7 linked regions of the Homo sapiens genome follow. The protein of the gene in region 3 interacts with the protein of the main gene of each other region in a pairwise test. Each region holds a gene or a part of one and is shown on either strand. Other genes may lie near its edges.

Region 1 (4,200 bases), on a different chromosome or scaffold from region 3:
GATATGATCATACATACATCATACACATATTCATCCACCCATCTAATACAAACATGCACACGTACAGTTATACATATATACACCATACGCACATATATCATGCATACATTTACCCATCTATATGATCATACGTACATCATACACATTTTCATCCATCCATCTAATACAAACATGCACACATACAATTATACATACATACACCATACACACATACATCATGCCTGCATTTACCCATCTATATGATCATACATACATCATACACATATTCATCCACCCATCTAATACAAACATGCACACATACAATTATACATACATACACCATACGCACATACATCATGCATACGTTTACCCATCTATCTGATCATACATACATACATCATACACATATACATCATACATACATTCACTGGCTCATCTGATCATACATGCAAGTGTACATGCATCATACACGCATACATCATACATGCATTAATGGAGCCATCTGATCATACATATATACATCATACACATTCATCCATCCATCTGATCATACAAACATACAATTATACATACATACATTGTACACACATACATCATACATATATACACATTAATCCATACATACAATCATGCAGACACACATTTCATTTATCCATCTAATTATATATACATGCGTACACTCATATATACACAAATAAACCCATCCAGTCATCCAATCATGCATGTATGCGTACATACATGATACCTACAGGCATTTATCCATCTAATGCAAACATACATACAATTATACATGCATACACCATACACACATGCATCATGCATACATTTATCCAGCTATCTGATCATACATACATCATATACATATTCATCCATCTGATCATACAGACATACAAACATACAATTATAGGCACATACATTGTACACACATACAGCATACATAGCTACACACTAATCTATCTAATCATATGTGCATACAATCACACAAACATACATATTTCATTTATCCTTCCAATCATACACACGTGTGTATGCACATATATGTAACATCATACCTACAGCATACAAACATACACGCATACAATTATACATACATACACCATACACACATACATTATGTAGACATCCATCTGATCATATATACATACCTCACACATATATATGTCATACACACATTCACCAGTCCATCTGATCATACATACATCATACATAGACTTATCCATCTGATGATACATACAATTGTACACACATACATCATACATAGATTCATCCATCTTATACATATAATTATATAAACATAGGTCATACACACATACATCATACATGCATTAATGGATCTATCTAATCATACATACATCATATGCATGTTCATCCATCCATCTGATTATACAAACATACAAATATACAATTATACACCCATACATCATACACACATACATCATGCATACATATACATTAATCCATCCAGTCATACCTATATACAATCATACTAACACACACATTTTATTTATCAGTCCAATCATATATACATGCATACACTCATATATACATAAATACACCCATCCGGCCGGGCGCGGTGGCTCACGCCTGTAATCCCAGCGCTCTGGAAGGCCGAGGCAGTAGGATTGCCTGAGGTCAGGAGTTTGAGACCAGCCTGGCCAACATGGTGAAACCCCATCTCTACTAAAAATACAAAAATTAGCCCGGTGTGGTGGCACACGCCTGTAATCCCAGCTACACAGGAGGCTGAGGCAGGAGAATCACTTGAACCCAGGAGGCGGAGGTTGCAGTGAGCCAAGATCATGCCACTGCACTCCAGCCTGGGCGACAGAGCGAGACTCCATTTCAAATAAATAAATATACCCATCCATCCAATCATGCAAGCATGTATACATACATGTGCACATACACCACGTATACATATATCATGCATGCATACATTCATCATCTATCTAATCATACCTATGTGCGTTCATGCAAACACACATATATACATGTATCCATCCCATCATACACACAGACACTCATATATACACATACATACACTCATCCATGCTTCCAGTCATACATGCACACGCACACCTACAGTCACACATACATACATTCATCTATGCATCCACCCACCCATCCATCCATCCGTCTATTCAGTCAGTTAATAAACATGTATTAACCATTTTCTACTACTCTGAGTGTCCGTCAGTGGAATTGACATTCTAGTTGGGAGAGACAGAGTCTAAATAAACAGACTCTGAGATACCATATGTAAATCATATGCAATTTTAAATGCTGTGTTCAGTGTGGGTCTCACTGATGGATAAGCAAAGACTCGAACAAGGCGATGGGGCCTGCTGTGTGGTTATCTGGAAATAAGCATTCCAGATAGAGGAAACTGAGTGCAAAGGCCCAAGGCAGGAGGGTGCTTGGCAGGCAGGTCAGGGCCAGCGCAGCTGGAGAGGAGCGAGGGGCAATGAGAGCCATGAGGCGGTCAGTGGGATGGTGGGGAGAGGGATTATTGTCCCCTTTATAACTTTGGCTGTCACTCTGTGATCTCTCCCTCCTCCCATCACTCTTTGTTCCGGGCAGGCCTCCTGAGATCACAGGAAGTGTCGGGAGGGGTCCAGGGACCCACCACCCCACCTGAACCCTGGACTCAGGCAGATTGATCTTCAGAGCCACCTCCTCACGGGCATAGACGTCTGGGTACTGGGTCTTGGCAAACAGTGCCTCCAGCTCCTCCAGTTGGCTCCGGGTGAAGGTGGTGCGCTCCCGCCGCTGCTTCCTGGGGGCGCCTGGGGTGGGATGGGAAACAGGACCCTCAGGTCATCCACATGGGCTGGTGTGAGGCCCTGAGGCTGGGTGGGATGCCAAGAATTCCATCCTGGTTGCCATCTGCCTAAACTAAGGATGGAATACACATTCCCTGCCCTTCTACACCTCACTGTGTGCCTGGCACTCTGTGGCTCATGCCTGACCCCAAGGCTTTAGCTCAACAAGGAGGTGTGCGAGTCGTTTTTCCCTCTTCTAAACTTTCTTATGCACTAAGACATAATCAGTTGAAGCATGACATTGCTGACATTCAACCGTTTCTAGCCTATAAAAGTAGCAAGTCTGGGCTGGGTGCGGTGGCTCACGCCTATAATCCCAGCACTTTGGGAGGCTGAGGCAGGCAGATCACAAGGTCAAGAAATTGAGACTATCCTGGCCAACATGGGGAACCCCTGTCTCTACTAAAAATACAAAAAATTAGCCAGGTGTGGTGGTGCATGCCTGTAGTCCCAGCTACTCGGGAGGCTGAGGGAGGAGAATCGCTTGAACCCAGAAGGCAGAGGTTGCAGTGAGCCAAGATTATGCCACTGCACTCCAGCCTGGTAACAGAACAAGGCTCGGTCTTGAAAAAAAAAAAAAAAAAAACAAGAGCTAAAGAATAATGCTACAAATAACTGAGTACTCACTTCTCTTAAAAATAAGGCTTTACAAAAATTGGCCGGGCATGGTGGTGTGCGCCTGTAATCCCAGCTACTTGGGAGGCTGAGGCAGGAGAATCACTTGAACCTGGGAGGCAAAAGTTGCAAAGAGCCAAGATCGCGCCATTGCACTCCAGCCTGGGCAGGAGCGAAACTCCGTCTAAACTGTGTCTCGAAAGAAAAAAAAAGAAAAAGAAATAAGGCTTTGCAGGCCAGGTGCAGTGGCTCATGCCTGTAATCCCAGCACTTTGGGAGGCTGAGTCAGGCGGATTATTTGGACCCAAGAGTTTGAGACCAGCCTGGGCAACATAGGGAGACCCAATCTCTACAAAAAAAAAAATAATAATAATTTTTTCTATGTTTTGTATAATCCAGATCCTGCAAAATCTACAAAAACTTAAAAAAGTTAGCCAGGCATGGTGGCGTGCACCTGTAATCCTAGCTATTTGGGAGGCCAAGGCAAAAGGATCGCTTGAGCCCAGGAGTTCGAGGCTGTAGTGAGCTGTGATTGCACCATTGCACTTCAGAGTGGGCAACAGAGTGAGACCCTGTCTCAAAAATAAAATTAAAAAAAAAAAGTGCCCCCCGGGCCTAGGCACAATGGCTCACACCTGCAGTCCCAGCTACTCAGGAGGCTGAGGTGGGAGGATTGCTTGAGCCCAGGAGTTCGAGGCTGCAGTGAGCCGTGACCACCACCACTGCACTCCAGCCTGGGTGACAGAGTGTGAGACCTTGTCTCTGAAAAATAAATAAATAATAA
Region 2 (4,302 bases), on a different chromosome or scaffold from region 3:
CCACCATGCCTGGCTAATTTTTGTATTTTTTAAGTAGAGACAGGGTTTCACTGTTGGCCAGGCAGGTCTGGCATTCCTGAGCTCAGGTGATCCACCCGCCTCGGCCTCCCAAAGTGCTGGGATTACAGGCGTGAACTACTGCACCCAGCCAATTCACTCATTTTAATTTATCATTAAGTTTTTTTTTTTTTTTTTTTTTTTTTTGAGATAGAGTTACTCTGTTGCCCAGGCTGGAGTGCAGTAGTGTGATCTCGGCTCACTGCAACCTTTGCCTCCTGGGTTCAAGCAATTCTCCTGCCTCAGCCTCCCGAGTAGCTGAGACCACAGGTGCATGCTACCATGCCCAGCTAATTTTTGTATTTTTAGTAGAGACGGGGTTTTGCCATGTTGGCCAGGGTGATCTTGAACTGCTGACCTCAAGTGATCTGCCCGCTTCAGCCTCCCAAAGTGCTGGGATTACAGGTGTGAACCACTGTGCTCAACCCAGGTCATTAAGTTTCAGTACATTTACTGAGTTGTGCATCCTTCACCACAATCCAGTTTTTTGGAATGCTTCCATCACCCCAAAGAGTTCCCCCAAGCTCGTCTGCAATTAACCCTGCTCCACCAACATACAGCCCCGGGGACATCCTGATCTGCTTTCACTCTCTGTAGCTTTGCCTTTTCTAGAAATTTCGTAAGAATGGAATCAGACATGTGGCCTTTACGTCTGGTTTCTTTCCTTAACATAATGTTTTTGAAGTTCATCTGTGTTGTTGTATCAGAAATTTGTTCTTTTTCACTGTGGAGTGAAAATAAACAAACTGTGTCCGTCCATACAATCTCGTATGGACGGACACAGTTTGTTTATCCATTAACTGGTTGATGGACTGTTGGGTTGTTTCCATTTTGACAACTGCAAATAAAGTTGCTGTGAACATCTGGATATGTGTCTCTGTGTGGACGTATATTTTCATCCTCTTGGGTAAATACTTAAGAGTAGAATGACTAGTTCATATGGTAGATGTGTTTAAATTTCTTTTTTTTTGAGACAGGGTCTCACTCTGTTGCCCAGGCTGAAGTGCAGTGGTGCAATCACGGCTTACTGTAGCCTCTACCTCCTTGGGCTCAGGTGATCCTCCCACCTCAGCCTTCCAAGTAGCTGGTAGGTACTACAAGGGCGTATGCCACCACACCCAGCTATTTTTTCTGTGCTTTTGTTGAGACAAAGTCTTGCCATGTTGCCCAGGCTGGTCTTGAATTCCAGGGCTCAAGCAATCTTCCCACCTCTGCCTCCCAAAGTGCTGGGATTACAGGTGTGAGCCACTACGCCTGGCTATGTTTTAATTTTTTTTTTTTTTTTTTTTTTTTTGAGATGGAGTCTCTCTCTGTTGCCCAGCAGTTGTTCACTGCAACCTCTGTCTCCTGGGTTCAAGTGATTCTCCTGCTTCAGCCTCCTGAGTAGCTGGGATTGTAAGGATGCGCCACCACACTCAGCTAATTTTTGTATTTTTAGTAGAGACGGGGTTTTGCCATGTTGGCCAGACTGGTCTTGAACTCCTGACCTCAGGGGATCCGCCTGCTTCGGCCTCCCAAAGTGCTGGGATTACAGGTGTGAGCCACTGAGACTGGCCATGTTTTAATTTTTAGGAAACTGCCAAGCTTGTTCCCAAAGTGGCTGTACCATTTTGCATCCCCACCAGCAATGTTCAAGAGTTCCAGCTCCTCCTCATCCTCACTAACACCTGGTATGGCCAGTCCTTAGTTTTAGCCATTCTTATAGGTGTGTGCTGGTGTCTTCATTTGGTGTTTTTATTTATTTATTTATTTGTGAGATGAGGTCTCACTCTGTCGCCCAGGCTGGAGTGCGATGGTGCGATCCTAGCTCACTGCACCCTGGAACTCCTGGGTTCAAGCAATCTTCGGGCCTCAGCCTCTGGAATAAGTGGGATTACAGGTGTGCACACCACTGTTCCCAGTCTTATTTTGGTTTTAATTTGCATTTCTCTAATAACTAATGATGTTGGACAGTTTTTCATGAGCTTCTTAGCTATTCATCTCTTTGGTAACGTGTCTTTTCAAATGTTTGGGCCATTTTTAAGTTGGGTTGCCTTTTTTTTTTTTTTTTTTTTAAGACTGAGTCTCGCTTTGTTGCCCAGGCTGGAGTGCAGTGGTGCGATCCTAGCTCATTGTAACCTCCACCTCTTGGGTTCAAGCGATTTTCATGTCTCAGCCTCCCGAGTAGCTGGGATTACAGGTGCATGCTACCACACCCGGCTAATTTTTGTATTTTTAGTGGAGACGGGGTTTCACCATGTTGGCTAGACTGGTCTCAAACTCCTGACCTCAGGTGATCTGCCTGCCTCAGGCTCCCAAAGTGCTGGGATTAGAGGCATGAGCCACCACACCCGGCTCTTTTTCTTTTTTCTTTTTTTTTTTTTTGAGATGGAGGCTTGCTCTGTTGCCCAGGCTAGAGTGCAGTGGCGTGATCTTGGCTCACTGCAACCTCTGCCTCCCAGGTTCAAGCAATTCTCCTGCCCCAGCCTCCCGAGTAGCTGGGATTACAGGCGTGTGCCACCACACCCGGCTAATTTTTGTATTTTTAGTAGAGACGGGGTTTCTCCATGTTGGTCAGGCTGGTCTCGATCTCTTGACCTTGTGATCTGCCCGCCTCAGCCTCCCAAAGTGCTGGGATTACGGCGTGAGCCACCATGCCCGGCCCTCTTTCTTAAAAGACATCTTTGTCATTCTCCCCTATCCTCCATCCTAGTGAAAAATCACTGTTTGGAGCAACTGATAGGGGCATCTCATGCCTCAGGTGCTAGTGTGGGGAGAACCCCTAATGTGGCAAGATGGAGCATGCAGAAAATGGATCATATTTTGAGGGAGATTGGTACAAGACATTCTCCCAAAAGTCATTTTGAGACATTGAGTCTTTGTAGCATTGTTCGTCTGTTCCTTCATTTATTGCAAATGGGACAGCCAGGCCTGGAGCACGACCCACCTCCTCGCCTCAACCTGCCCACGTCTCCTTCCTCTTCATCCTTCCACTCTCCAAGGTTCTGGCCCCTCAGAGCCACCTGCCTGACCATGCAAGCTCAAGTAGTCCCCAGGACACTTTTGCTAGTCACCTAGTGTGTGTGTGTGTGTGTGTGTGTGTGTGTGTGTGTGTGTGTGTTTGAGATGGAGTTTCGCTTTTGTTGCCCAGGCTGGAGTGCAGTGGCATGGTCACTGCAACCTCCACCTCCCGGGCTCAAGCAACTGATTCTCTTACCTCAGCCTCCCGAGTAGCTGGGATTACGGGCGCCTGCCACCAAGCCTGGCTAATTTTGTATTTTTAGTAGAGGTGGGGTTTCTCCATGTTGGCCAGGCTGGTCTGGAACTCCTGACCTCAGGTGATCTGCCTGCCTGGGCCTCCCAAAGTGCTGGGATTACAGGCGTGAGCCACTGCGCCCGGCTTGTGGTTTTTTGTTTGTTTGTTTGGTTTGGTTTGAGGAAGAGTCTCACTCTGTCGCCCATGCTGGCATGCAGTGTCGTAGCTACCTGCAGCCTTCTTGACCTCCTGGGCTCAAGCTATCCTTCTGCTTCAGCCTCCCGAGTAGCTGGGACTACAGGCATCTACTAACACACCTAATTTTTTTTTTTTTGAGACATTGTCTCATTCTGTCGCCCAGGCTAGAGTGCAGTGGCACAATCTGGACTCACTGCAACCTCCACCTCCTGGGTTTAAGCGATTCTCCTGCCTCAGCCTCCTGAGTAGCTGGGATTACCAGTGCACGCCACCACGCCCAAATAATTTTTGTATTTTTAATAGAGACGGGGTTTCACCATGTTGGCCAGGGTGGTCTTGATCTCCTGACCTCGTGATCCACCTGCCTTGGCCTCCCAAAGTGTTGGGATTACAGGCGTGAGCCACTGTGCCTAGCCCACACCTGACTAATTTTTAAAAATTGTTTTGGGCCGGGCGCGGTGGCTCATGCCTGTAATCCTAGGACTTTGGGAGGCCGAGGTGGGCAGATCACTTGAGGTCAGGAGTTTGAGACCAGCCTAGCCAACATGGTGAAACCGCTTCTCTACTAAAAATACAAAAATTAGCCAGGATTGGTGGCACGTGCCTGTAATCCCAGCTACTCGGGAGGCTGAGGCAAGAGAATCACTTGAACCCGGGAGGCAGAGGTTGCAGTGAGCTGAGATCGCTCCACTGCGCTCCCACCTGGGCGAGAGAACCAGACTGTCTTAAAAAATATATATATTATTTTATAGAGATGGGGTCTTATTATTATTTTTTTTTGAGATAGAGTTTTGCTCTTGTTGTCCAGGCTA
Region 3 (4,302 bases):
ATGTTCTGATCTATTTGAGGGTCTTTAAATGTATCCCATCACATTCCAAAGTACACAGCTCTTCTAAAAACAGACCAAGAGAAACAGTAACCCTTTAAAAAGCTTCAGTCATTTTAGAGCCCCTGCTTACAAGCTTCCAATATTAATGAAGGTAAATGGCAGAAGCCACTTAAGCTGGATCACAGGTGATATCACTTACACACATGTGACCTCTCAAAGCTTCAGTAACACGAAATTGAGCATTACATCGTGGACATATTTTCCGTCCACCATCCTGGAGGTCAAATACTGGGATGGAAGAGGTCACTGAAAGAAGTGAGAAGAATTGATAAGATTAATACAATGACACTGGAAAAAGATTACTGACCTTTTGGGAAAAAGTCAAACACTCCCTGAGAAGTATATAAAAGGGTAAGCAAGCATGAGAGATCACTATGGTTTTTGTTTGTTTTTGTTTTTTTTGAGACACGGTCTCTCAGTCTGTTGCCCAGGCTGGAGTGCAGTGGCACGACCACAGCTCACTGCAGCCTTGACCTCCCTGGGCTCAAGATCACTATGTTTGAGGCTTCCTTTTACTGTTCTAACTCTAGGCCAGGGGTCAGCAAACCACAGCACACAGATCAAATCCAGCCCAGCTACCAGTTTCTGTTTGGCCCATAAGCTAAGAATAATTTGTATGTGATTTTTTTGTTAAGGTTTTTGTTTTTTTTAATCTTGCAGAACTGAAGCTATATCCAATAAAAACCTCCTCACCATTCTCCCCTCGCCTCCACCCCGGCAACCACAATTCAACTTTGTCTCTATGAATTTGACTACTCTAGGTACCTCAAGTAAGTGGAATCATATGGTACTTGTCCTTTTGTGACTAGCCTATTTCACTTTAACATAATGTCCTCAAGGTTCAACCATGTTGCAGCACATGTTGTAGCAGAATTTCCTTTCTTAAGCCTGAACAATATACCATTGTATGTGAATACCACATTTTATTTATCCCTTTATCAGTTGATGGACCTCTGTGTTGCTTTCACCTTTCAGCTATTGTGAATAATGTTGCAATGAACATAGGTGTACAAATACCTGTTCTAGTCCCTGCTTTCAATTCTTTTGGGTATAGAATGGAATTCCTGGAGCATACAACAATTCTATCATTTTTAACTTTTTGAGGAACCACCATACTGTTTCCAAAGTGGCTGCATAATTTTACATTTCCACCAACAGTGCGTAAGGGTTCTGCTTTCTCCACATCCTCAACAATATTTGTTATTTTATGGTTCTTTGATAGTAGCCATCCTAATGGGAGTGAGACGGTACCTCATTGTGGTTTTGATTTGCATTTCCATAATGATTAATAACACTGAGCACCTTTTCATGAGCTTATTGGCAATAACTTTCTTTGGAGAAAGGTCTATTCAGTCCTTTGCCTACTTTCCTACTTTTTTTTTTTTTTTTGAGATGGGGTCTTTCTCTGTTGCCCAGACTGGAGTGCAGTGGCACAATCTCGACTCACCACAACCTCTGCCTTCCAGGTTCAAGCAATTCTTGTGTCTCAGCCTCCCGAGCAGCTGGGAATACAGGCACACACCACCACGCCTGGCTAATTTTTGTATTTTTAGTATAGACGGGGTTTCACCATTATTGGTCAGGCTGGTCTTGGACTCCTGACCTCGTGATCCACCTGCCTTGGCCTCTCAAAGTGCTGGGATTACAGGCATGAACCACCACGACCAGCGAGTCCTTTGTCTATTTTTTAAAAAGGTTGTTTGGGAGTTTTTTTGTTGTTGAACTGCACAAATTCTTTATATATTCTGGATATTAACCCCTTATTAGATACATAATTTGCAAATATTTTCTCCCATTCTGTGGCTTCCCTTTTCACTGTGTTGACAACGTCCTGCACAAAAGTTTTAAATTTTGATATAATTTAATTTACTCATTTTTTCTTTTCTTGCGTATGCTTTTGGTGTCATATCCAAGAAATAGTAATCACTGTCAAATCCAGTATCATGAAGCTTTTTGTCCTATAATTTTTCTAAGAGTCTTATAGTTTTAGTTCATTTAGGTCTTTGATCCATTTTGAGTTAATTTTTGTATTTATTGTAAGGTAAGATCCAACTTCTTTTGGACATGGATATCTAGTTTTCCCAACACCATGTTTTAAAGGTTTTTACTTTTTTTGAGACAGGGTGTCGTTCTGTTGCAGTGGCATGCTCATGGCTCACTGCAGGCTCAACCTTCTGGGTTCAAGCCCAAGCCATCCTCTCACCTCAGACTTCTGAGTAGCGAGGACTGCAGACATACACCACCACGCCTGGCTAATCTTTTTTTTTTTTTTTTTTGTAGAGATGGGATCTCACCATGTTGCCCAGGCTGGTCTCAAACTCCTAGGCTCAAGTGATCCTCCCGTCTTGGCCTCCCATAATGCTGGGATGAGGTGTGAGCCACTATACCTTGCGGTTTTTATTTTTAAATGGTTGAAATAAAAGAATAAAACTTTTCGACACATGAAAATTTTATGAAACTTAAATTTCAGAGTCCATAAATAGTTTTTAGTGGAGCACAGCCATGCTCATTCGTTTATGTATCTGTGGCTGCTTCCCCACCACAACAGCACAGTTAATAGCTGCAACAGAGGCTATATATTGTGCACAAAGCCTACAACTTTACTACTAGGCCCTTTACAGAAAACATTTGCCGACCCCTGCTCTAGACCACTGAAAACCCTCATGCTCATCATTCTCAACCTGAAGATCTCTCTACCAAATCCTAACTTTAAAACCTTGCTCAGAAATCCATCTCTTCCATGAAGTTATCTTTCATTATCTCACCCATCTTTAATCAATCAATTTCACTAATCTCCAAAGCACAATTACACACATAATTTCTTGGAGCTGATTCAGTTACACTTTTTGTAAGTGGCTTTCTCCTTACTAAAGTTTCTGTAAGAACAAACTACAGCAGCTGTATTTTATTTTATTTTTCTATTTCTGAGTATAAAGCTCTGATACAACAAACACTTTATTAATGTTTTTGAATGACTGGCTGCTCAGAGTCTTTCAGGTTATTGTACCTTTCATTGAAGACTCAGGTCCGCTGGTTCTTTGAGAGCCATGAGCAGAGCTGTTGTTGGACACCACCACTGGCCCAGGACTCTGGCCCAGGGAAGGGATGGTGTTAAGGGTATTCACCAATTTGGCCACTTCATTGCTATTTTCGCCTGTAACACCAGGTCGCTTCACAGTGACAAAGCTGGCAATGCTCACTGCAGGTGGAGAGGGGAAGGAGGGAGCTACGGTGACCAAGTGATAATCATCTGTTCTCCACCCACCATCCCAACCTGGCTCTGCCATCTCCTCTTCCGAAGCCTTACCTAGCTTGGGATTCGTGGTCTGGTTTGACTGGCCTGGAGACTGAACAGCTAGTTGCCCCAGTGAGGTTGGCTGTGTGGCAGTGGGAGTGGTAGAAGTGCTGGGAGTGGACTTGGTCTGCTGGGACTGGGACTGTGGGACGGTGCTTCGAATGGTAAGAGTGGCCGGGATGACGGTGGTGAAGGTGTTGGTGGTGGGCCTCACAGGCATTGTGGAGCCTGGCCTCACAGGGGTCATCTGGGAGAACACTTGTGGAACTCCAACTGTCGGCTTAACAAACTGGGTACCTGGGGCTTTAAAAGAGAGACAAAGTACCAGATCTTGGTCAGTGAGCTCACCTATAACACATTCTCCCTGCCTTTACTGGAAAGATTATTTCCCCAAACTGATGGATGATCATCAGAGGTTTCCAAGAGGAGTATAGATTCTAAAGACTAAGAAAGCACAAGGTGTCCATGTTGACAAAATAACCTGGGCAGCCTAAAAACATTAAGTTAAATAAGACTCCCATCAACTCCTCCTAAAACACCTTATCACACTGCCTTTTTAATTCTAAGAATACAATCAGTGGCTTGACCTCGGTACTGGAAGAAAAGAGTGGGAAGCAATATGGGTGTATATAGGCCAAATGGCAAACCTGGTCCTGAAAAAAGAAATCAGTCTTTCTCAGAGTACTAAAGGAGTCTTCCATCCTCTTCTATCAACTCAGAAGACAGACTATGCCATTCTACTAGGATGTCCCAAAGAGGAATGTCTCCTGGCTCAACTGTAGACAATTCCACTGAGAAAAATAAAGAAATGCCAGGGTAAGCTGGTCAGACTTAAACCCCTATGGGCTACGAGAACAAAAAACAAAACCTTAGGAAGACAAGCTACAGAGGTACCCTTACAAATAGCTAAATTAAGATACTCTTTTTTGGTCTGAATTGTAGTAAAC
Region 4 (4,302 bases), on a different chromosome or scaffold from region 3:
CGCTAAACTTAGTAACCAATCCAGCCTTCTCAACAACCCTGGGAGGTTTTATTCACTTTACAGATAAGGAAGAGGCACAGAGAGCTTCAAGTGTTTGTCCGAGGCCCCAGACCTACTTACGTGGCAAACTTAGGACTCGAATCCAGGCAGTCTGACTCCAGAATTCAGGCTTTTGATCAACTACACTACCCTGACTCTCCTCCATTTATACTCTTCTTTGAGAATTTCATCCACTTTTGTGGCTTAAATGATGATTCGGGTGCTGTCTGCTTCGCTCCCTGCCTGGCCTGCTCTCCCCAGCACCAGTGGCACATCCCCTGCCCTCTGCGCATTAGACGCACAAGGGTACCAAAAACACAACATGTCCAAACCAAACTCTGCTTCCTCCAAATCCACTCAGCTGACACACTGACATCAACTAAAATCCAAATCCATCACCATATACTGTGACTTCTAACTCCCACCTCTGCTATTGATGCCCCTTTCTCTTTTCCCACTGTTAAGGCCCCCGTCCAGGCCATCCCACCTCCCCACACCCCTGGCTGCTTTCAATCCTGAAGCCAGGCTAAGCCACAACTCAAACATGATGACATCATACGCTCACCCAAGCACTCAAGCCTGCCACTCCTGGCCCTGAGAGGCTCTCCCAGGCCACTCCGCCTCCAACACCCACACGCACGTGTCTGGTGCTCTCCCCTCTTCTTCAGCTGACCGCGAGGCCGTTCTCACCCCGGTCTGGGGAAACTCTCTGCGCCCCTGCAGCACCCTACATGTTACCTGTTCCCCTGTCTGCACCTCCAGCTGAAACTCTGACGGAAGGAGGAACTGTTTCTCAGTTACACCACTTGTATATATGTTCATTATGTTCTAAGAGCTAGGCTCAGCTTTAAATGGGTCTTTATTATTCTCTCTTCCAGGTAAGGAAACCAAGGCCCAGAGAAGCAGCTTGACTGAGGCCACCACTTTAGGGAGCGGTAGAGCCAGACTTTGAATCCATGACCACCCGACGTGTCCTGGCTCACTGCCTCCCAGTGCACCTGCAGAACTAGAGTAGGGCCAGCACGCACAAGTCACGCACAGGTCACGCAGCCAATTTCTGGCAAATGAACTGAGCCTTCAGTGTTTTAAAGGAAAAAACCACTCTACTATACCTTTTAAAAAGTCAGGTTGGGCGTGGTGGCTCACACCTGTAATCCCAGCACTTTGGGAGGCCAAAGTGGGTGGATCACTTGACGTCAGGAGTTTGAGACCATCCTGGCCAACATGGTGAAACCCTGTCTCTACTAAAAGCATAAAAATCAGCCAAGCGTGGTGGCATACGCCTGTAGTCCCAGCTACTCAGAAGGCTGAGGCATAAGAATCACTTAAACCTGGGAGGCAGAGGTTGCAATGAGCCAAGATCACACCATTGCATCCAGCCTGGGTGACAGAGCAAGACTGTCTCAAAAATTAAACAAAAAAAGAAAAAGTCAGTCTAGCTTTACTGCTCTCCAATTACAAAATGATTGGAGTGACAATTCAAACGTGATCTCAAAAGTACCTACCATTTACTGAGTCCGAGCTCCATGCCAGATGGATAAACAGGCATTTTCCACATTTCACCTAATCCTCACGACCACCAAATTAAACAGGTAACTTAACTAGAGCCACAGATCTAATGAGGATCAGGGCCATGAGTCAAACTGCGTCTGATTCTCAAGTCACTGCTCCCAAAATAGTACAATTAACTCAATGAGGTAAGTAAACATAATGCTGCAACTTATATTGAGTCAGTCTTTAAGCAGCTAACATTTACCTTTAAACAACGGAAACTTAACAGGATAAATGTTGGCATTGCACTTAGTTTACTGCTCAAAGCAATGTTTTAAAATCTACCTTCCACAGGACACTCGAACGGCTTTGTGCCTAGGTGGGTTATGCTGTGGCCTTTCAGATGCTCTGCTCTGGTGAATGATTTCCCACAGCCCTCGACAGGGCAGGTAAACCTCCGGTCATCGTCATGTTTCCTGCCAGACAGAAAAATAAAGGAGCTGTGATTCCTCACACAACTCACCATAATTCTTTAAAATTCTACAAAACATACCAAAACACAAACTTTGCATTTACAAAAATGATCAGTACATTTCGGAAAATCTTAATTCTGTCTTTAATCCATGTGAGCAGATTTGCAATTTAGCTACCCCATAAAAATTCTACTTTAATGACTAAGCTGACCCCAGAGTCACACATCAAACAATTAATGCTACTTCAATCTAATATAAGCTAATCTAAGAACAGTGGAGTCCCAAATGTATTGATGAAGGTGTTTCTATTGTTTAGAAACCCCAATGATCAACAAGCTTTCCGAGCGACAGACGGTCGTGAGAAATGTGCACAGAGCATCAGCTGCAATGCCAAAAGGACTCTCTTAAGCCAACTTGTAAAGACTGTGTCTTTTCCTAAGTGACATTTTTATATTAAATCCTCAGAGCCCAGCTGTGCAAGTACAGAAAAACCACTGAATCTCTCCGAGTCTCACTGTAAAACAGGGAGAATAAGAACATTAGCTTTGAGGTTGTTGGGAAGGTAGAAGACACACATGTAAAGTGCTGAGTGTCACCTGGACACAGTCTCCAGGGTTGTCATTACCACCATGAAAACTTGTAATTACATGAAGAAAGCTTATTCTACAATGTTAAGTTAAAAAAAAAACCTGGAATTGTTTTTTTTTTAAGAACAGAGTATGCCAATTTAGCTTTTTTTAAAAAAAGTATACACAGAAAAAACTGACTTCAGGTGATGAGATTCTGAGCAATTTTCTTTTTACAGTTTTCTGAATTTTCCAAATCATCAACACTGAGCTCCTTTTTTAACAACTTAAAAAATGTCTACAGATATTTCATTCATTGGTTTCTGCTGCTGACAAACCACTCATTTTCAAACCTGATAATGCAAACCAAAATGTAAGGATTACCTTCTGTGCCTTAGAAGTTTGGACATGCTGGTGAAGGTCCAGCCACAGCTGTCAGAGTCACAAATAAATGGTCTTTCACCTTATAAAAGAAAAAATTATACAGCATAAAATTTACAACTCCAACAGCTACGATGAAGACAAATCTTGGGTCCAAATGCTGTGCGTTCCCTAGCTCATTACCTGTATGGCTCCGCAGGTGAATTTTCAGCCGACAGGCTTTATCATACTGCTTGCTGCACCCAGGAAAGGAGCAGGAAAAGAGCTCTTGTTCCCTGAAGTGGGCTCGGTTATGGGAAAACAGGGCACTCACTGTGATAAATGTCTTCTCACAGCCTGAACAAGGAAAACACAAACCCTGCTCAAAGCGTGGCAAAAATTATACAACATAGCTAATGCTAGTCACACCCACCAGACCCTGTTCACACTGAAGCAGACAAGGGAAAACATGACTCAGAAGCACTCTCTAAAAAGGGAAGACCATTAATGCTTGGCTTTGTGATCACCACAGGAAGGCAGCTAATGGCAGCCAATAGGCACACGCTGGCCACCTGTTGCAACATGACTTGGAGATGGAGCAACCGATAAAGAGAAAGTCCTCCGTTCACAGCCATCTACTGGCCGGCTCCGGAGCACTGATCCTGCACACACACTGAGACCCAAGAACCCCATGAGAGAAATCAAATACTAAGGAACAAGATTTTGTCTGGTAGGGTTGATCTTTGAAAGGCTACAAATCATCCTACTAGCCAGGATTTTTCACCCCTTGGGGGTGATGCTGCATCCTCTACATATCCAAATTTCCTCCCTGACACCCTCCAACTGCCAGCCCTGTCCCTTGCTGTTTGGATTCTTTTTCCTTTCGCAATTTCCTTAGGTTCCCTGCTTTGTAATCTTCACCTCAATCCTAACCCCTGGCCAAAGCAGCTAAGCCTCAACAATTCCACAGCAATACTTCTCCTCCGACAGAAACATTCAGGGCTCCAACAGGGTGGAAAACATGAGGCTGCAGGATGTTTAACAGGAGTCTTTGCTGCAGCTCCTCTTGGAGCCTTTAACGAGATACTATCATGCCTATGAACTGCCACACAGATGTACATGGCATAGCACTGCCCAAAAGTATCAGCCCAAGGAACCCTACTTTCCCCAGCAACATCTAACTCAGAAATGCTGATCTTTGGCCTCAATCTGGTCCCAAAATACCTCCAGGGTATTTTGGGCTTCGGTGTGTTCACACACTTGGTCATGTAAATCTGAACACAGACTCTCTCTGCCTTGGCAAGAACCCCCCACACCCCCATAGATAATTACACCCTTTGGTTCTCCCTCTGCAATCTCACCTGCTAGAGACC
Region 5 (4,302 bases), on a different chromosome or scaffold from region 3:
TATTTTGGTTATTCTTGCTATATGTATTCTGAGAAATCTTTCTTGATACAGAATATGCAAGCATTTGGTGTAGCAAAGGGGATTTGATTTGGAATGGGGAAATAAGGGAAAGAGATAGCATGAGAGAGTCAGGCTGTAAAGTCCTTAAAAAAGTAAAGTAAAGGTTCTCAATGGACAGTTTAACAAAACTTAGGATTTCAATGTTCCTGGTGATTCTAATACATTAGTGGTGGTGGCAGTGGCGGCGGTGGTGGTGGTGATTGTAGGAGGACCTTACTATCTAACCTACTCATCTAGGACAGAATGATCTGTTAACTAATTGCTGTTACTTGCACATACTTTCATTAAGTGTGAATATTTCAGTCATGAATATTCTGTTCTAAGTAATTTCTGTCAAAGATAGAGTCTGAAAATGAAAATTTTGGACTATTCCATGGATCATTACAGTTTACTTCTAAAGCACTTTTAAAGTGCTTCCAGAAAGCATTCTATTAGGTATTTTTGTATTGGGACTTAAGATGTGACAGAGCACTTGTAGTGACCTGGCTCCTACAGTAGTCTGTTTACTCATAGGAGCTTGAAATTTGTACACTTGACTGCTCTGTGTAATTTCAATATTTGTTGTTGCTTCTGATAAAGCTAAAATAACCATGTGGATATTATAGAGGCCAGTGAGGAATTCCACCATGGAGACTGCAAACTGACCAGAAAGTGCTTTTAAGAAATCTTTAGTAGTGAGTTTAAACAACAAACATATCTAGAATTCACAGAGTAAAATGAGCAGGATAAAGGTATACATTTGACATTTCATTTTAGCTTGAGAGACTGTAGGGAAAAAAGGGTCATCCTCTACATAAGCTTCCAGAGCTGCTTGCTACCCAGCCTCCTAGAGTCATTGCTGGGTACAGTTTGATTTACCTTCTTCACTTTATTTAGAATTTGTACTCAACCACCATCACCACCATCACCTTTCCCTCTCATTGCCTTCTCTCCAGCCTTCACTACAGACCATTCCTGGATTGGTTTAAACAGGCAACTAACCTTGCCATTATGATTAAATGTTTGTCATGGATTTAGCCCGTGTTTGGTGACAAATGCCTTATATCTATTGAGACTTCTCAAAGACTCTGGATATTCTCCATTATGTCTGACCTTAAAGTATTGAGCTTGGCATTTAGTAACAGGATTCATAGATATTTAAAGATAACTTGAGGACTTGAGACATATATTTTCTTAGTCTTTTCTACCTTTTCCTTTTCTAGCAAGGCAGCAGAATAGTTCCAGTGATTGTCTTTTGGTAAAAACCATTTTGTGTCTTATGTTATTTCATTGTTCTTATTTTATTTCATTCTAGGTCCAAGGGCAGCCATTAATGGTGCAGGTCAGTGGAGGCCAGCTAATCACATCAACTGGCCAACCCATCATGGTCCAGGCTGTCCCTGGTGGACAAGGTCAAACCATCATGCAAGTACCTGTTTCTGGAACACAGGGTTTGCAGCAAGTGAGTAATATTTAAAAATATTGAGCAGTATATCAGAGGAGAGGTTTCAAAGAATAGATTATTACAACCTATTTGATAATTGATATTGCATTTAACTGCTTCCTAACCCACATTTTGCATTCAGTTGATTTTCTGCCTTTATAGTACCAGTGATATAAACTAGAACTATGCAGAAATTGGACAGCTCCAGTAATGACTAAGATATTAGGCATGATCTTGAATTGCTGTAAAGTATATGAAGAGGTTAGAATCTAGTTTATAGTATATTTTATTTTAAAAGAAACAAAAATGAGTATTTAGAAAGTTAGAAAAATAACAAAACGAGCAAAAAGTGGGTCCAAATTAATTAAGTAGAAAACTGACGTATAGAAAGGATAAATAAAATCTAGATTGTTTAAGCAGACCAATAAAACAGGTAAATCCAGTTGAAACACTGATTGAGAAACAGAAAACAAAAGTAAGCAAAGATGTAGAAGAGATTAAAGGAAGGCCAGGCGCAGTGGCTCATGCCTGTGATCCCAGCACTTGGGGAGGCCAAGGCAGGTGGATCACTTGAGGCCAGGAGTTCAAGACCAGCCTGGCCAACATGACAAAACCCCATCTCTACTAAAAATAAAAAATTAGCCGGGCGTGGTGGCACGCACCTGTAATCCCAGCTACTTGGGGGGTTGAGGCATAAGATATCTTGAACCCAGGAGGCGGAGGTTGCAGTAAGCCAAGATTGTGCCACTGCACTCCAGGCTGGGCACCAGAGCAAGATTCTGTCTCAAAAAAAAAGAAGAGATTAACAGAAATATGTAGAAATGTTACATACAACTCTGTGGCATCATATTTTAAAATTAGATATTTCTCATCGAGATGGCAAAAAAAAACAAAAAGTCATTATATCCACTGTTAGGATGGATGTGGAGAAAAAGAATTAATCATTATTTTTGGTAATTTAAAACTGTAGAGTTATTTTGGAAAGGCACCTCACTATCTGTTAAATACAATGAATATTTGAGCTAGCAGTCCCACTTCTGAGAATCTGTCCTATAGGAAGAAAAGCATCAATAGTAGGGGGAAATTACAAAGACACTTTTCATAGCATTGTACTAGCAAAAAATAAAATTGCAATCTGAGTGTCCATTAATAAGAATAAGGAAATGGTTGGAATAAATCATAATATATTCATAGGGAATATTGCATCATCATTAAAAGAAATGAACTGTTGACTTGGGGTGGGTTAATATTGAAATATTTTTAGTGGAAATAATTTGCAGAGAAATAGTGTGTGATCTCATCTTTGTAATTCATAACCAACCCCCCATGAGTATATGTTTATAGTCATGGAAAAGAGAGTATGAGATAACTATTAGTTACTCTATCTAAATGTTTATATTGTTTCAACAGTTACAGCAGTCATATTAATGTCTTAGTTTTCTGGAGGAATTTAAGTTGAAAAAAGCAGCCATGATCCCACTGCTCATAAATCAAACTTGTACTTTTTGTGTATTCTTTTGTGTTTTTATGCATAATTTTTGGGCATAATTGTACCATGCATGTGGGGTTGTGTTTTCATTTTTTTTTTTTAATTCTTTCATAATGTTCAGTCAACTTGATGAATCAGAATTTCTAATTTATAAAATATAGTTAAGGATTTTGGTTTTCATTTGCCTTTGTAGGTAAACATTTGGGCACGATAGTTTTATTTTTCAACTGAATTCTCAGGATAATTTCTTTGGATTGGGGATTGCTTGGGTAAAGGGTAAGAGTATATTTGAGCCCACTGGCATATTTTTGCCAAGATAGAATTGTACTTGGGATTAAAAATAGTTTTCACATTTCTCTTTGCATAAATATATGAGGCTTTAAATATCTTTTCAGCATGTGCTTTCCTTGATTCCCTATTGCTATATCCTTTCTGTTCTTCTCTCTTTGCTTCCTCTCCAGTCCCCCTTGCTGCGCCTTCTCCACTGTTGAGTAGAGACAATGTGGTATAGTTAGGAACAGTATACTGTGAGTGTAGTGGTCCAAGCTTTCATTACCAGGTCTGCCATTAAATAAGCATTCTGATCTTGGCCAAGTTATTTAATTGTCGGTTTGCTCATCCAAAAATAAAATTTATATGAGATGATATCTAGGGTTCATTCTAGCTCTAAATTCTGTGATTTTTATGGGGTTTTATTTTGCTATAAGGAACCTTCAAATAGTTATTTCCCTGCTTCCAAGTAGGGCTATAACTAACCAAGCTGAAAAAAATATATTCTGTTACGTAAATAAAGCTCTCTAGGTGAGATTCCATAGCCTCCCTTACAATACTTAAGGCTTTAATCCCCTTTGTATAGGAGTTTTTTTTCTCATTAGTGTTGAGTAGCCATTTTTTAAAGAAGACTACTTCTTAACCTTTTTTGAATTGTATTCTCTATTTTAGAATCCTAGTAAAGCTTGCACCCTCTAAGAAAAAGTAGAGATGTCCAGTCTCATGAAAAATTCTGCATATAATTTTAGATTAAAATCCTTGGCCTGAGAAAGATACTGGAACCAGAGAGACAGCCAAGAAATAGATAGAAGAATATTGGAAGTTGGCATATAATAAAAGTGGTATAAACATATCAATGAAGAAATGGCTGAAGAATGATACAGAAAAGAAACTGATTTCTAATTCATACTGTATTTTAAAAAATATTTGCTAGGTGGATTAAAGATCTAAATGTAGAAAAGTAAACTTGGAAAATTCAAAAGAAAATATAAGAATTTTTATGCTATAGAGAAGGATATTTTTAAAAACAAATTGACTAAAACATAATATGCATTGAAAT
Region 6 (3,978 bases), on a different chromosome or scaffold from region 3:
TGTTGATTTCCAGTAGCTGGCAAAGTGTTGTAAGGAATCTTACCATCACAGCAATTTCAGGAGCTGTGCCTAGTTGGGGATCAAAAGCTAGTTGCTGCTGTCCTCCTGATATAGCCTAAAAACACAAAAAGTTTTAAAAAGTCTAAATCAGTGATCGTTGAAAATATGCTCTTTGGCCACCCAGAGTACCAGAGTAGTAAAACACTCCCAAACTTCTTAAATTATTTTGCTAAAAACAGAAATAATAGTTTAATTTTTGCTATTAGAGAACTGGCTTGACATCTCGCCTCTGCTTCTGTTCTGAAAGTGCTACTTTCTAACATTCTCTACTAGGACCAGGTACTTACCTGTTGAGCATAAAGAATTCTACAGAACACCAACATCAGAAGGGGTGGAAAAAACAAGACAATTTCAAAATTTTGTCTGAAGTAAGGTCACCATACAAGTTACGAAAATACCAGGTGTTCTCACATCTTGGCTAATATGAGCGACTGATGCTTCTTTACCCATTAAAGCTTTCACCTTGCTCCACTATCCTTGCCTTAGAGAAATGAGCTTTTAAAATAATCATAGAGCTACCCTACTTTTGAGAATAGCCACTGCAGAGTGAACAACCACTTCTTTGCAATCTTCCCCAAATTACCTAAAAGAAGCCCAAATCATGTGAGAAGTCATTCTAATACTTTCCTATTAAGACACCCAAGAATCCCCACGTGTGTGTTCTCCTCCTTGTACTGAGTGGATACATACAATTTTGTTCAATTAGAGGTGCGCTCCTGGTCATCTTTGGCTGAAGGGCATTGATAGATTTAGTAGACAATGAAGGAAGTAGTTTCAAAATATTTTTAATGAAAAATATGCATTTACTTACAGGTTCTGCTAGTTGTGGAATGTATCCAAATTGAGCATAGAATGGTATCTGTCAGATTTTTTAAAAAATGTATTATATTTTCTGTGATTATTCTTGTCGTAAGTTTGCAGTAAATGATTACTTAAACTTATATATCTTTTTATATAAGTTAAAAGCATTTTTAAAGTTTATATGTTCCAGTAACTAAAAATTAATTATTGTTAAATTAACAAGAATCTTTTTAATACCATATCATTTCTAGGATAAAACTCTCTCTTTCCCTTTAAAGCAACATGACAATTAGAATTAATACTACCAGTTTTTTAAAGCATAATTCTGAGTTTTCTCTAATTTGTAATGCCAGGTTTTAGAGTTATGATTAAACTAAAAAAAAGACATTTTCATTCTAACAGGAAGGATGTTAATAATATATGAGCCACCTGAATTTATGTTAGAATTCTAAAAATTTATTGCAGTTTCACAAAATTTAATATAATGGTATCTAATTGTATCTCAAAATCCAGTGATCAGATATATCTTTCATCAAGGTAGCTAATATTTTTGCCATTTATTATTTTTAAATAGTAACCACACACACATATGTGGAAAGGTGGATGCTAGTAAATTTTAAATGTGAGAAAACTTCACTTTTCGAGGTTATTCAGCTTTTTGGCCTTGATTCTATTGAAGTCCACTTACTGATTTCATTGGCTAAAAATCCAGCCCTGGAATATTACCAAATAAGTTTACACAAATGATTTATAGCCGAGAACACTATACCTACCCTCTTATGCCTACCTGTTTCATGCTGTTGAGTGTTTGCATTAAATATACTCAGAAACTTTTTTTCTATGGTAATATACCTTATTTTCTCTATTTTCAAGTGGAACTAGTAGGATTAAAATAAAACATTTGCAGTACCTGCTCCTCATACTGTTGCTGTCTTGTTTGTTGAGGTGACCTTGGAACTGTTTGCTGAGGTTGTTCCCAGGGTAGGACCATGTAAACTGGATAGTATTGAAACATCTACTTGTAAAAAGAGAAGGATACAAGAGATTCCATTAAATCAGCATAGGACATACTTTTTATCTTCTAATGTCAATTTTATTTAAAAGCTGTTTTATGTCTAGCAGCTTTATATGATTAAATACAAAGCAAATAGATGAAGAATCCCTTCCCAAACTTTGGAAACAACTTGTATCCCAGGTAATACTGGACTTGGTTTTTAAGGTTGCTTGGGCAAACACATTTAGGAAATAGTGGGTTGAACTAAGCAGAAGAGCTTTTTTTTTTTTTCAAAGGACATCTTAGAAACTTTATATACAAATTACTTTGCAAATACCTAAGTGAAAGATAGCCTATGTAGCACTTACCCTATATTTTTGAGAATCATCATTCTGCAGAATGTGGTATTAGATGTTCTGCCATAATAAATGAAATGCTATGAATGTATTGCCTTTAAGAATTGCTACTTTATTAAAATAATCCATATATATTTTAGGATATTTGGTAAATCAAGACATAGACAAGTAACAAATGAAATCATCTGAAACTTCCCCACCTACATTACCATGTGGCTTCCATTTATATTATCATTGCCTTCTACTTATATGTCTGTGTCTGTTTATTTGTGTATGTGTTCATAGAAAATGAGAATCTTAGTACATATGTTAATTTTTGTATGCTGTTTTTATTTGCATAAAGTAAGAGATTGTATTAGACATGAAGTTAAAAAAAACAACTAGGGTTTCAGGAGGATTATATTTTGTGCAAGCATTCTTAATCCTGGCTAAGAATCAAACTCACATTTGAGCATTTTAGAAGATGACCAAACTTAACATCTATTCATGGGGTATTGATTCACTGGGGTAGGGTTCAGACGTCTGTAATTTTCAAACACCAGAGATTCTAATGTAAAGCCAGGATGGAGAGCTACTGGTTTCATGGTTAAAGGAGACAGAAGGGGTGGAGAATTATATTCCAACTCAGCTATTTACTTTCAATGGGATGAGGAATTTGATCTCATTAAGACTAGGTTTCTTGATTCTTAAGATGAAGTAATTCTAGTTATACATCTAATTCTTTAAATGCTTATGTCATAGAATGAGATAATGTCTAGAAGTAACTTTTGTTTTATAATGGGAGTGGATGTGGGACAAAGTTATTTAGTTATAATTACAGTAGAGTCAAATGCTGTAACTTTTTATGAAAAGGCCAATATTCTGTGATGAGTAATATAATTTATTTATAATACTGTTTCTTTGAACCCAGAATATTGTAAAATTAATAATCCTGATATTTATAGGGTTTTCCATATTAATATGATGATTATACTAGTTTGCATTCATTTTTAAAAGATTATCCTATTTAATGGAAAAAATTACCATTTGATTGTAATATGGATTCAAATTGGAAATGTATAAGAAGCTTAAAATGTTTTGAGCAGAATTTCATAACAGCCAAATAACATGGGCAAGTGTTTCTTATCTCTACATCATATCATATATTATCAGCTTAGTGCATCTCCTTCTGAAGCAAAATTTAAATTTGGATAAAGTCAGCCCATGGTATTTCTCTTGAGTTTTTCCCAACTTCCAGCACTTTGGATGCAGAGAGGACATGACCTGGGGCTTACTGAGCTCTTTTACTCTCAACATAGCAATGCCCTGGAAATTCAGGGGTCCTGGAGACTCTACTTAGCTGCCTGTCCTTAAGGAGTTGTTAAGTGAGCCCAACATCAACAAACTGATACTAGCCCAGCAATGATGTTATCTAGACAGTGATATCATTATATAGGTTTTTATAGCCCTGCTATAGGAGTCAGAGCTAGAAATAGAAAGCATTGTGGAGAGTGTATGTAGCCATCTCTATGGGCAGTGTTGTTATATCCATTTACCTGTCCTTGCTCTTGAGGCATTTTGAAGGAGAATACATAGGGCATCACCTGCCAAAAAAAAGAATTATATAAAAATGTATGCTTGACTTTGTTATTTAAAAATCCCTGAGCTGCTTTTCCTAGAGCTAGCCATATAAATTTATCCTTTGTGTTAACAAGTTTCCACAACAAAAAGTCATCCGTTACATGTGCTGACATAAACTGCCTATTATTGAAGTTTTCCTATCTTATC
Region 7 (3,852 bases), about 17 Mb from region 3:
CAGGCAACCTGAAGTCAGGCAATGAGTCTTCCCTGGACACCACGTAGCTGGAGTAGTATTGTTTCCTGAGATCCAAAAAACAGAACAGCACAGAAATATTGGGCAGTGACACCAGTTGTGACACCATAGCATGTTAAAGGACCTTTCGCTATAGAAAGAGCCAAGGACTCAATAGTACCATGTTTGGACCCCTCAGACTAAGCCTTGGAGTGGGCTGGGTTTGCACGGGTTCAGCTGATGGAATAGTGGTGGAAGCAGCTGAGCCAATGCTAGGCTCCAAGTGGAACTTTAGACTCCTCAAGTGGCGGCCCTGAGAAGGGCTGCTCAGCCAGTGCAGTCTAAAGTCAATGTTTGGAGAACTGCTCATCACCCAGGTCTGGAAACCTCACTCCCAAGGTTATTAGCACATCCAGTAGTAGGTAGAAAAAGAGGAGGAAGACTCACGAAACTGATTCTGCTCACGGGTTATAGCAATGACCTTGGCTGGGGCAGAGGTAAAAACTCATCTGAAATAAGGTTCCTGGAGTATTTATCATCCTGTTTCTCTCTTCTAGGCAAGGAGTTTCCAAACCTAGCCCAGGGCCAATGCCTGGAGCTCTTGTTTGAAATGCAGATTCCTGAACGCCAGCCCCAAAGATTCTGATCCAACAGGTACGGGGTATACCCACGAATCTGTATGTCTAGCAAGGGTCCCCTGTTCCAGGTGATCCTGACTTAGGGGATCCAAGAACCAGTATTTGGGAATAACCACTCTAACACACCCTGTCTCCATATATGATTGTCATTCACTGACAATTGGTGGTGCCTCAGATGAGAAGCCCGTGTAACTAACAGCCAGCATGTTCCTAGGCTCCCACACGGATGCACCTATGTGTCATGGGGCATGTGTCTCTGAGATCTGCCCCCCAGCCACTTCACACCGTCCTTGTAGCACACATGCACATTACACCAATTCAGTTCAGCAAATGTTTATTGGGCACCTACAATAGGCAAGGCACAGTACCAGCTGCTGTGGGTTACAAAGACAAGAAGGCTAGGCCTCACCCTCGAGAGGCTTACAGTCTAATAGGGAGAGACACACTCACAGGTAACAAAAATACAAGGCAAAATGAGGTGAGCTCTATGGCAGAGGCAAAAACAACGGGAGAACAGCGAGCAGAGATAGATCAGACATATCTCAGCAGATCAGATGTTGGATGCAGGGAGTGACGTTTCAGCCAGGCTCTGGGAGGTGGGTCGGATTCGCACAGGTGAACTGGAAAAAAGAGGACACTAAGGCACAGGCAAGGTATAGAGGTGGGAAAGTGCAATGAATGTTCAGAGAACAGAGATGCCTGCCTTGACCAATACATAGGAGGCCAACAGGATAACAGAGGGACCTAAGCTGGGGAAGTGGTTTCAGGCCAGATGGTGTGATCGCTCGTAGTAGGATTTCTTTCTTTCTTTCTTTCTTTCTTTTTTTTCAAATGAAACAAAGCCTTGATCTACCACCCAGGCTGGAGTGCAATGCCACAATCATAATTCACTGCAGCCTCAACCTCCTGAGATCAAGCGATCCTCCTCTAAGTAGTTGGGACTATAGGCACAGGCCACCATGCCCAGCTAATTTTGTGTGCATGACTATTTTTTGTAGAGACAGGCTCTCACTTTGTTGCACAAGCTGGTCTCGAACTCCTGACCTCAAGCGATCCTCTTACCTTGGCCTCCAAAAGGGCTGAGATTATAGGCTTAAACTACCACACCCAGTTATAGTGAGGAGAATTGACTTCATTCCACTGGTAATGGTGAACCATTGAAGGTTTCTGAGCAGAGGAGTGACATGACTTCATTTCCACAAGTCTGGGCACACTGCTGTTTGTAATACATGATTAGCTTTATTCTTTTTGTTAACCTTACTCTATGGCTTACACCCCATCCTGGTCTCAAAGCAGAAGTGTGAACCTGAGCCCTGTGGCCACACATACTTTCCAGGCTTCACAAAGCAGGAAGCAGTGGCCTTAGCTAGGTAAACTCTGAGCTCATTTAACAGCTTTGCACCTTCTCCACAGAAAAGGAAGTGAGGCTTTCCAGAACGATTTGAGAATAAGAGGCAGGGCACAAGGATGGTACTTAACAAACTTCTGTCACCTAAGCATGGCAAGAATAAGCTGCAGAGAAAATGGGAGTGCAGAAGAAAATGGTGGAGAGATGCAAATGATCTAACTAGCATCATCCAAACTGAACCCTCTCCCAGTATGACTTCTGTAATAACCCACCTCCACCTCCAGCTAGTGGGAAGGGAGATTCCACAGTCTGACTCACTAGATCAGTTGATGGGGTTTCTAAGCACTCTACACATGGAAGGATCGCTGTGCAAAGAGGCTCCTAGGATCCTGCTTAACCATCCAGTGAGGAAGGAGAATGGTGCCCACCCGCTCCTGGGCCACCCCAGCCCGCGAAGGGATGCGAGGCCACTGCTGTCCAGGTGGACACAGCAATGCTGGTTAGCGAGGGCTCCCCCAGAACCTCCACACCAGCCGAAGTGGGTGCTTGGGTGGAGAGCACAGAAGGGGGTGAAGTCACAGCTGGGTTTCCGAGGAGAAATGCTCCTGGGGTGCTGGCGTGCACCTCCGGGCCTGGCCCACTGGGGCCTCCGGCACCATTGCTGATGGTCCACAGGCACGGGTAGGGGCTGCAGAGACAGAGAAAGAGGGGAAGGGAATGTTCACTGGCACTCCAAGGAAGGAGTGCCACCTGACAAGCATGTACACAGTGCTGAGAAGGGCATGGTTACAGGAGGGCTTCTGGCCATGGCTTTATTTCTAGCTATGACGCAGATTGGTCCTGTTTCTGCAGAAAAGCTAAGAGAAGCAGCAAAGTATGGTGGAATAATGATAAGATTAAGTATTCTGGTACTGGCCCGGCCACCAGCGAATTATTTGGTTTTAGACACAGAATTTCATTTATCTGGGCTCCCTTGCAGCCTATGTAAAATTGGCAGGGCAGTAGAAAAAAAGGTATTAAAACTGTATGATTTCTGCATATGATCTCTCCCTGGCCAATGTGGCATAATAACCAGGAAACATCACTGTCAGAAGACTTAAGTTTAAATCCCAGCTCTACCACTTAATTAGCTCTGTGGCCTTGGCTAGATTATTTAATATCTCTGAGTGTCAATTTCTCATCTTCAAGATGTGGATTCATAATTTTACCTACCTTACAGAGATTGCTACAAGGATTAAATAAGAGGAGTATATGGTCCTTAGCATGTAGTACTCAGTAAATGGTGGTTGTTAACATTAATTCTTCCATTCCTGGTCTCCGCCTGTGAGCTCTGGTGCCTGGCTGAAAGGCTGGGAGCTACAACATTTTCTTTGCCTTCTCTAGTTCTGTAGCACAGGTTCACACACTTGATTGCACATTCGGCACATTGGAATCACTAGGGGGGGTTTTTAAAGTAATATTGGTGCCTGGATCCCACTCTCACCCCACTCCCCTGCCCCAGAGATTCTGATTGAACTGATCTGGCATGCAGCCTGAGTACGAGGATTTTTTTAAGTTTCCCAGGTGACTGTAATGTACAGCCAAGCTTGCACCTTAATATAGATGCAGTTGGAACAGGTGCAATGAACCCAATGTTTTCGGCCTGTAGTCATCACTATGTTTCTTACATTTTAGAGTTTCTGCATTGCCCAACACTGTATTGCTTGATAATATGCTTATTATCCAATGGCAATATTGAATACATTTGTTTTGTTTTGTTTCTAACAAAATATTTATGGAGTCAGGAATGAGTTAAACACACCAACAGGGAAGCCAGAGTTGGCAATGCCATCCTTCACCTGGTGCCATTTTTCAATGCTACAGGCCTCT

Evidence for each region.
Region 1: the proteins of POGZ (region 3) and CRX interact in binary tests that used the Homo sapiens proteins (3 or more experiments, as listed by UniProt).
Region 2: the proteins of POGZ (region 3) and KLHL26 interact in binary tests that used the Homo sapiens proteins (3 or more experiments, as listed by UniProt).
Region 4: the proteins of POGZ (region 3) and ZXDC interact in binary tests that used the Homo sapiens proteins (3 or more experiments, as listed by UniProt).
Region 5: the proteins of POGZ (region 3) and NFYA interact in binary tests that used the Homo sapiens proteins (3 or more experiments, as listed by UniProt).
Region 6: the proteins of POGZ (region 3) and ODAM interact in binary tests that used the Homo sapiens proteins (3 or more experiments, as listed by UniProt).
Region 7: the proteins of POGZ (region 3) and TBX19 interact in binary tests that used the Homo sapiens proteins (3 or more experiments, as listed by UniProt).

What each region holds. Positions count from the first base shown.
Region 1 is NC_000019.10:47,834,808-47,839,007, reverse strand, and holds part of CRX (cone-rod homeobox protein), read right to left. Parts: intron 2,766-4,200; coding exon 2,614-2,765; intron 1-2,613. UniProt on the Homo sapiens protein: Transcription factor that binds and transactivates the sequence 5'-TAATC[CA]-3' which is found upstream of several photoreceptor-specific genes, including the opsin genes.
Region 2 is NC_000019.10:18,639,226-18,643,527, forward strand, and holds part of KLHL26 (kelch-like protein 26), read left to right. Parts: intron 1-4,302. UniProt on the Homo sapiens protein: May play a role in endo(sarco)plasmic reticulum (ER/SR) mitochondrial signaling. May be part of the ubiquitin-proteasome system (UPS) and affect ubiquitination and degradation of target substrates in cardiomyocytes.
Region 3 is NC_000001.11:151,424,756-151,429,057, forward strand, and holds part of POGZ (pogo transposable element with ZNF domain), read right to left. Parts: intron 3,659-4,302; coding exon 3,368-3,658; intron 3,287-3,367; coding exon 3,068-3,286; intron 307-3,067; coding exon 200-306; intron 1-199. UniProt on the Homo sapiens protein: Plays a role in mitotic cell cycle progression and is involved in kinetochore assembly and mitotic sister chromatid cohesion.
Region 4 is NC_000003.12:126,469,020-126,473,321, forward strand, and holds part of ZXDC (zinc finger protein ZXDC), read right to left. Parts: intron 3,287-4,302; coding exon 3,134-3,286; intron 3,033-3,133; coding exon 2,954-3,032; intron 2,007-2,953; coding exon 1,876-2,006; intron 1-1,875. UniProt on the Homo sapiens protein: Cooperates with CIITA to promote transcription of MHC class I and MHC class II genes.
Region 5 is NC_000006.12:41,082,692-41,086,993, forward strand, and holds part of NFYA (nuclear transcription factor Y subunit alpha), read left to right. Parts: intron 1-1,354; coding exon 1,355-1,501; intron 1,502-4,302. UniProt on the Homo sapiens protein: Component of the sequence-specific heterotrimeric transcription factor (NF-Y) which specifically recognizes a 5'-CCAAT-3' box motif found in the promoters of its target genes.
Region 6 is NC_000004.12:70,198,395-70,202,372, reverse strand, and holds part of ODAM (odontogenic ameloblast-associated protein isoform 1 precursor), read right to left. Parts: intron 3,795-3,978; coding exon 3,747-3,794; intron 2,272-3,746; coding exon of another isoform or gene 2,263-2,271; exon of another isoform or gene 2,224-2,262; intron 1,877-2,223; coding exon 1,772-1,876; intron 920-1,771; coding exon 872-919; intron 116-871; coding exon 44-115; intron 1-43. UniProt on the Homo sapiens protein: Tooth-associated epithelia protein that probably plays a role in odontogenesis, the complex process that results in the initiation and generation of the tooth. May be incorporated in the enamel matrix at the end of mineralization process.
Region 7 is NC_000001.11:168,311,527-168,315,378, reverse strand, and holds the end of TBX19 (T-box transcription factor TBX19), read right to left. Parts: intron 2,672-3,852; coding exon 2,377-2,671; 3' UTR 953-2,376; downstream 1-952. UniProt on the Homo sapiens protein: Transcriptional regulator involved in developmental processes. Can activate POMC gene expression and repress the alpha glycoprotein subunit and thyroid-stimulating hormone beta promoters.